Linked DNA regions of Homo sapiens. The protein of the gene in region 1 interacts with the protein of each later gene in a pairwise test. Each region holds a gene or a part of one and is shown on either strand. Other genes may lie near its edges. The genes, in order: DEFA6 and SGTB.

Region 1 (3,450 bases):
AAAACACCTAGGAAGAAACAAGGAGGTGAAGGATCTACACACTGAAAATGAAAAAAAAAAAAATAGTGAAAGAAATTAAAGAATGTAAAAATAAATGGAAAGATATCCTGGGCTGAAAATTGGAAGAATTAAGATTGTTAAAATGTCTATCCCAAACAAAACAATATACCGATTCAGCACAATTCCTATCAAAATCCCCATGGCATTCTTTACAGAAATAAAAAAAAAAATCCTAAAATTTGTATGAAATGGTGAAAGAACCCAAATAGACAAAACAATTCTGAGAAAAAAAAACAAAGTTGAAGACATCACAATTCCTGGTTTTAAATTATATTACAAAGCTACGGTAATCAAAACAATATGGTATTGGCATAAAACCAGACACATACCAGTGAAATAAAATTGAGAGTCCAGAAACACATCGAAACACATATGGTCAAGTAACTTTTGACAATGGCATGAAGAAGACACAATAGGGACAGGAGAGTCTCTTCAATAAATGGTGGTGGGAATACTATTTCCATATGCAAAACAATAAAACTGGACCCTTCTCTTTTGGCATATACAAAACTTAACTCAAAATGGATAAAATACCTGAATAGAAGACCAGAAACAAGAGACTATGAAAATAATGGTAGAGTTCTATATGTTTTGAGCTACAAAGTATTCAAATTACAGCATTAGGGAGAAAAAACAAAGCACAAACCAATGTTTAATTTTTAAGTGGAGATTTCCTGGAGCAGAGCTGCAGGGCTGGGGCAAGGATGGAGGCTCATTACTCCTTTTACCCTTTGAATGGTCCTTGTGGGCAATTCAACATTTTCTAAAATTAAAAATAAAATAAAATTTCAGAGGGGGATTGTGGGCATGTCAATTGTTTCGATGTTTCTCAAAGTGGAGAGAAATACCTAGTACATATTTTAGTTGATACATTCAGATCACATGGGTTTCTTGAAATAAATCTTTTGGCTTTAGTTTTACTAACTCTTTACCTAGTATCCCACTGAGTTCTTTTCCCTTATAGGCTGATAAGGTCATTATCTTCTCCACACTGTGCCCCACAAGAGCCTATTCACCCCATAATCTCAAAGCCTCCTTCATGAGGGCAGAAATGCCCCCTGAATCCTGCAATGAATTAACTCTCTACTCTAGCGGGATCCAGCTCTGGCCTCAAGGTCTAGACCTCCAGAGAGTGGCCAGCCCCACCTTCAGAAAATAAGAGGCATTTGATTCCTGAAATTATTCATTGAAAGCACTGTTCTTTTCTTTTTTGAATATTAACAAGTAAATATTCCAGCAGATGGAAAACAGGACAATGTAACACTGTTCTTATCATCACTATCAGCTGGGACCAGAACAGACACTCAATAAACAGCCTCACACTACAATGAAGCTTGGAGAACAAAGGAGCATCAAAGGGACATGGAGGGCAAGGGTAGCTCTTCTGCTCCCCAATCACATGCACTCCCCGTCTCACCGCAACATCTGTCCCTGAGCCTTCTCCCAGCAGACCTATAAATCCAGGCTGGCTCCTCACTCCCCACACATCTGCTCCTGCTCTCTCTCCTCCAGCGACCCTAGCCATGAGAACCCTCACCATCCTCACTGCTGTTCTCCTCGTGGCCCTCCAGGCCAAGGCTGAGCCACTCCAAGCTGAGGATGATCCACTGCAGGCAAAAGCTTATGAGGCTGATGCCCAGGAGCAGCGTGGGGCAAATGACCAGGACTTTGCCGTCTCCTTTGCAGAGGATGCAAGCTCAAGTCTTAGAGCTTTGGGTAAGAGACACCAGCATTGCAGAGCTAGGAGTGTAGAGAGGAAAACCAAGCACTTCTAGAATTAGATCCAACAGCTGGCTCTTTCTCTTAGGTGATCACCTCCCCAGGCCTCAATTACTTTATGTTTGTACTGAAAAGGAAGAATCAGTGATATTCAAGGCATGACTTTTCTCTAAAGATTTTTTAATTCTATGATAAGTCTATGAAATTTTCTAATTTTTTGCCATGTAGAAATGTATTGAGGAGTCTCTACTTCAAGGAAGAGAGCCTAATTTTAAAGGAATGTTTTGTTTTGCTTTGTTTTGTTTTGTTTTGTTTGATGGAGTCTCGCTCTGTCACCCAGGCTGGAGTGCAGTGGCACTATCTCAGATCACTGCAACCTCTGCCTCCTGGGTTCACGCAATTCTCTCCCTCAGCCTCCCAAGTCACTAGGATTACAGGCACCAGACACCAAGCCTGGCTAAATTTTGTATTTTTTTTTTTTTCAGTAGAGACGGGGTTTCACCATCTTGGCCAGGCTAGTCTTGAACTCCTGACCTTGTGATAAACCCACCTTGGCCTCCCAAAGTGCTGGGATTACAGGCGTAAGCCACCACATCCAGCTGCTAAAGGAATGTTTTTTAATCTGACTTTTATAGGAACCGTTGCAAACTGGAGACAGTCATATGGGTGCATTCAGATGTGTGTGTGACAGGGAAGGAGCAGATAAGTACAGCATATCAGAATGGCTCTCTAATCCTGTGTGTGACCAACACTGCTCTGCGTATTTATTCCTATTGATGGTGTGATCATGCTATTGGCTGTAATGCAGCCAGCATTACATGTCAGCAAGCATGCAACTTCCTGAAGATTCTCTTTACTGCCCGCTGCTGACCCTGGTGCTCAATTTCTGATGCTCTCTCTCTCTGTCCCCAGGCTCAACAAGGGCTTTCACTTGCCATTGCAGAAGGTCCTGTTATTCAACAGAATATTCCTATGGGACCTGCACTGTCATGGGTATTAACCACAGATTCTGCTGCCTCTGAGGGATGAGAACAGAGAGAAATATATTCATAATTTACTTTATGACCTAGAAGGAAACTGTCGTGTGTCCTATACATTGCCATCAACTTTGTTTCCTCATCTCAAATAAAGTCCTTTCAGCAAGTTCTTTTGTGTTTGTGCTTTTCTGGTGTTTGATAATTCAGGATTCTTCAGATGCAAAAACAAAAACCCAAGTCGTATCTCAGAACACTAGCTCTTCGAAAGAGTTTTCTATGTAGACCAGAGAAGTGGTAGAGAGGATGTTGAGAGAAGAGAGGATTTGGGTTTTTTGTTTTTTTGTTTTTTGCTTTCTGAGATGGAGTCTCGCTCTGTTGCCCAGGCTGCAGTGCAGTGGCACAATCTTGGCTCACTGAAACCTCTACCTCCTGGGTTCAAGTGATTCTCCTGCCTCAGCCTCCCAAGTAGCTGGGATTACAGGTATCCACCACCACGCCAAGTAATTTTTGTATTTTTAGTAGAGACAGGGTTTCACTATGTTGACCAGGCTGGTCTCGAACTCCTGACCTCAAGTGATCCGCCCACCTCGGCCTCCCAAAGTGCTGGGATTACAGGCATGAGCCACCGCACGTGGCCTTAGGCACTCTGTTTTAATGTTAATGCTGGCCAGCTGTGCCTGAATTCCAATGGGAG
Region 2 (3,827 bases), on another chromosome or scaffold:
CACCTGTAATCCCAGCACTTTGGGAGGCTAAGATGGGCGGAGCACTTGAGGTCAGGAGTTCCAGACCAGCCTGGCCAACCTGGCGAAACCCCGTCTCTACTAAAAATACAAAAATTAGCTGGGCATGGTGGTGCATGCCTGTAATCCCAGCTACTTGGGTGGCTGAGGCAGGAGAATCACTTGACTCCGGGAGGCAGAGGTTGCAGTGAGCTGAGGTCATGCCATTGCACTCCAGCCTGGGTGACAGAGTGAAACTTCATCTCAAAAAAAAAAAATAGCCCTATAGGACAGCGGTCCCCAACCTTTTTGTAACAGGGACTGGTTTCATGGAAGACAGTTTTTCCATGGACCATACCGGGTGTAGGGGGTAGGGGCAGGATGGGGAGAGGAGCGTTAGATTCTCTTGAGGAGCACTCAACCTAGGTCCTTCACATGCGCAGTTCACAATAGGGTTCTTGCTCCTATGAGAATCTAATGCTGCAGCTGATCTGACAGGAGGTGGAGCTCAGGCAGTAATGCTTGCTCGCCCACCGCTTACCTGCTGCTGTGCAGCCTGGTTCCTAACAGTCTGTGGCCCAGGGGTTGGGGACCGCTACTATAGGAAACAAAGCAGTCAATGGTGCCTCTTTTCTACTACAACCGGTCAGTCTGTAGCAGGCCCATGCTAGGAAGGGAGAAGTTTTACCTGTAAATGAAGCTTTATGTATTTGATTGTTACACTGAGACATTAATTGCTGAACTGGAGGTCATTTTATAGAACTTAAAGTGACAGGAGGATTGCTTACTGAAAAGTGACTGGAAAAGCATAGATCTGTTCTAAATTTCCTCTAGGTCCTAGATTGTGGGAGAAGGGGAAGAACTACTGCTGCAGAACTAGTTTAAAGGGATTGCAAAACACAGCATTTCATGTTTATAGCTCATACATCCTGCTTTTCCTGTGTAATGCCTTTAGCACTTATGGGTTGGCTCAGAGGCACCAATCCTGACTGGGACTTGAGGAAAGTTTTGAATTACTTACGAATCAGTCAGTGATCTTTCTGGTAATATAAGCAAGTGGTGGCTTTTCCCAACACCTCATAGAGAGTCTGTGAATATAATCTATTGTCTACAAAGATTTAGACTAAATTCAAATTTTACATAAATATTGTCGACATTACCAATTTGAGGGAAAAAATGTGATGCTTTCAAAATAGAATGTTTTAAAAGTATGTGTGCACATAAATATAATTCCTTGTGCCACTGTAAGCATGGGAAGGATTGAAATTGCTGGGCCCCATGGAGCAAAGTCACATCTCTTAAAAGCTCGTTTGGAATGGACCTTCTCAAGTGTAGGAGATCCCTTAACCATACTTTTAAAGTTCCTATTTTTCCTTTTGGCTTAATTGGTCTGATAGCAGTAGTAAGTAAACTGCTGTCAACATCCTCAGTTTATAGTGTTGTTTGTAATCTCTTTATCCTCACCATGTCTTCTTAATGCCACTTTTTCTAGTACCTTCTCTCTTTTTACATTCCCCTTTACTTTGCATAGCACACTGAAACTCTACAAAATGTTAGTGCATACATGATTTAGCTTTCATTCTTCTAAAAAAAAAATCTTTGCTAAGATCCCTACATATTAACTGCCTTTAATGGGAGGTGCTGTTTTTCAATTCCAGGCGGCAAGTTTAATGCAGAACCCTCAAGTTCAACAGCTGTAAGTATATAGAAAGAGCTTATTACACTTCCCCAACCCTTCCACTTGCCAGGCTCCTAATTTGAGCACATCAGCTCAAAAATGATGAAACTGTTCTGAATGACAGTCAGTTGGAGCTTAAAGCCACACACATTTGGCCTAGCCTCTGGTATAACATGGGTATTTTATTAACTTTTCCTCGTCCAGTTGTCCTATTTGTTAAGAATATATACCAATCCCAGTGATGTATTTCTTGTGTACTCTAGAATGTCAGGAATGATGACAAATGCCATTGGGGGACCTGCTGCTGGAGTTGGGGGCCTAACTGACCTGTCAAGCCTCATCCAAGCGTAAGTATTATTTAAAACAGAAATAGTGAAGATGTATTTTATGTTTTACAGCCTATCTCTATGGTGAGGGGTCAGGGCTTTCTTTTTAAATGTTTATCTTTTACCGTTAGTAACTTTAGCCTCCTTAATGTTACTAAATCTGAAAGAAGTTCATGAATTACAACCACTTTTTAGACTGCAGGGCAGGAATCCATACCTAGATAGTCTGGCCAGCCCTGTCTGTTGAGAAAAAGAACCATGTTTATTATGCTTCCCCCCACCCCCACCCCCGCCCCCGGTTCATTATGCTTTATTTTTTGGGACTTTCAAGTACCAGCAGAATCTTTTTCTTCTTTTCTTTTTTGGCACCATCTCAATAAGGCAGGTGAGGGACAGATATTAGAAAAGTAGATAATTTATATCCCTACCCAATGGCTAGAGAAACTGAGGTACAGGTTAGTGACTTACTAAGGAACCCATAGCACATTCAGTCTTTTCATTTGCAGCCTAATTTTACTTGATTGTGTTGTCAGCATGAAATTAGGGTCCTTGGTTTTTAAGTGGGGGTATCAATACTGTATCTCTGCTTACAGAGGGTCCCAAGGATTGGTGACCTGGTACTTTGAGGGTATGGAGACAAACAGTAAAAATCATATGTCCAAATAAATTGTGATCTCATATATATATAAAGCTATTAATCCCCCATTTTTTCCCAATGAAGATCCAGGAAGTTTTTCAGCAGACTTCAAACTACTCAGGGACACAGATGAAGGTCAAATATCCTCTTAAAATATATATCAATTTAGGTACACATACATAGTTTAAAATCACTTGTTACATACTTTAATGTTCAGGCAATTCAGGAAATTTTTATTCAAACTTTTTCAGTGCCTGTCAACACTTAGAGGAACTACTTGCATCTTCTCATTACTTGAGCACATTGCCTTCACTTATATCAAATTGGCGAAGACAACTTTGCTTTTTGAATCTGTGTCTGATGCTCTCGCTGGACATTTTATATGAAGCCACAGTACCACTTGTTGTTTGTCAGCACAACTGTGTATCCACTTAGAATATTGCATTTTTAGAATGACCTTTAAATGGCATATAATGACATCTAACACTGGCAATAGAGGGTCACATACTACAATTTGTGTTAAACTTCTTAGTGTTTTTAAAATTACTTGTTAGGTGACCTCCAAAAGCATCCCAAACTGGGTGTTATATGAGACTATTAAGACTTGGGTATAAAAGCATTGTATTTGAGCACATACAATAAAAACATATACGTCTTACCCTTTGCTTCTTTGTCATTAGCACTAGAGAAGTAGATTTCACCCAGTTGAGGTACTTATTTTTTTTAGCATGGGTGTTTTGTTTCTTATAAAGAACACTGCATTGTAATAATGCTATATGGAGGCATTGGTAAACTTGTAGATTCTAAAGTCATGGCTCTGAAACTTGTTTTTATAGAAAAAAGCCCCCTTTAGGTAGCTCCTACATTTTCTGCATTTCTTTTTGCGTGGGTAAATGTGACTGGCAATTCCCTATTCAAACCACATTGCCTCTTTACTACAGGGGACAGCAGTTTGCTCAGCAGATACAGCAACAAAATCCTGAACTTATAGAGCAACTGAGAAATCACATCCGGAGCAGATCATTCAGCAGCAGCGCTGAAGAGCATTCCTGATTTAACCAGGGGCTCAAGCCCAAGATACAAATGGTTTATGGCTATGAATGAAGTATTTGTTGTAGATAGTACCCCCTCCCTCCTTCAAAAAACCAAACACCATATCTGATGTGTGAAAATAATGGAGGAAAACCTC

The links.
Region 2: the proteins of DEFA6 (region 1) and SGTB interact in binary tests that used the Homo sapiens proteins (3 or more experiments, as listed by UniProt).

What each region holds. Positions count from the first base shown.
Region 1 is NC_000008.11:6,924,169-6,927,618, reverse strand, and holds DEFA6 (defensin-6 preproprotein), read left to right. Parts: upstream 1-1,542; 5' UTR 1,543-1,583; coding exon 1,584-1,776; intron 1,777-2,691; coding exon 2,692-2,801; 3' UTR 2,802-2,922; downstream 2,923-3,450. UniProt on the Homo sapiens protein: Host-defense peptide that contributes to intestinal innate immunity and mediates homeostasis at mucosal surfaces by forming higher-order oligomers that capture bacteria and prevent microbial invasion of the epithelium.
Region 2 is NC_000005.10:65,670,110-65,673,936, reverse strand, and holds part of SGTB (small glutamine-rich tetratricopeptide repeat-containing protein beta), read left to right. Parts: intron 1-1,655; coding exon 1,656-1,693; intron 1,694-1,938; coding exon 1,939-2,022; intron 2,023-3,579; coding exon 3,580-3,691; 3' UTR 3,692-3,827. UniProt on the Homo sapiens protein: Co-chaperone that binds directly to HSC70 and HSP70 and regulates their ATPase activity.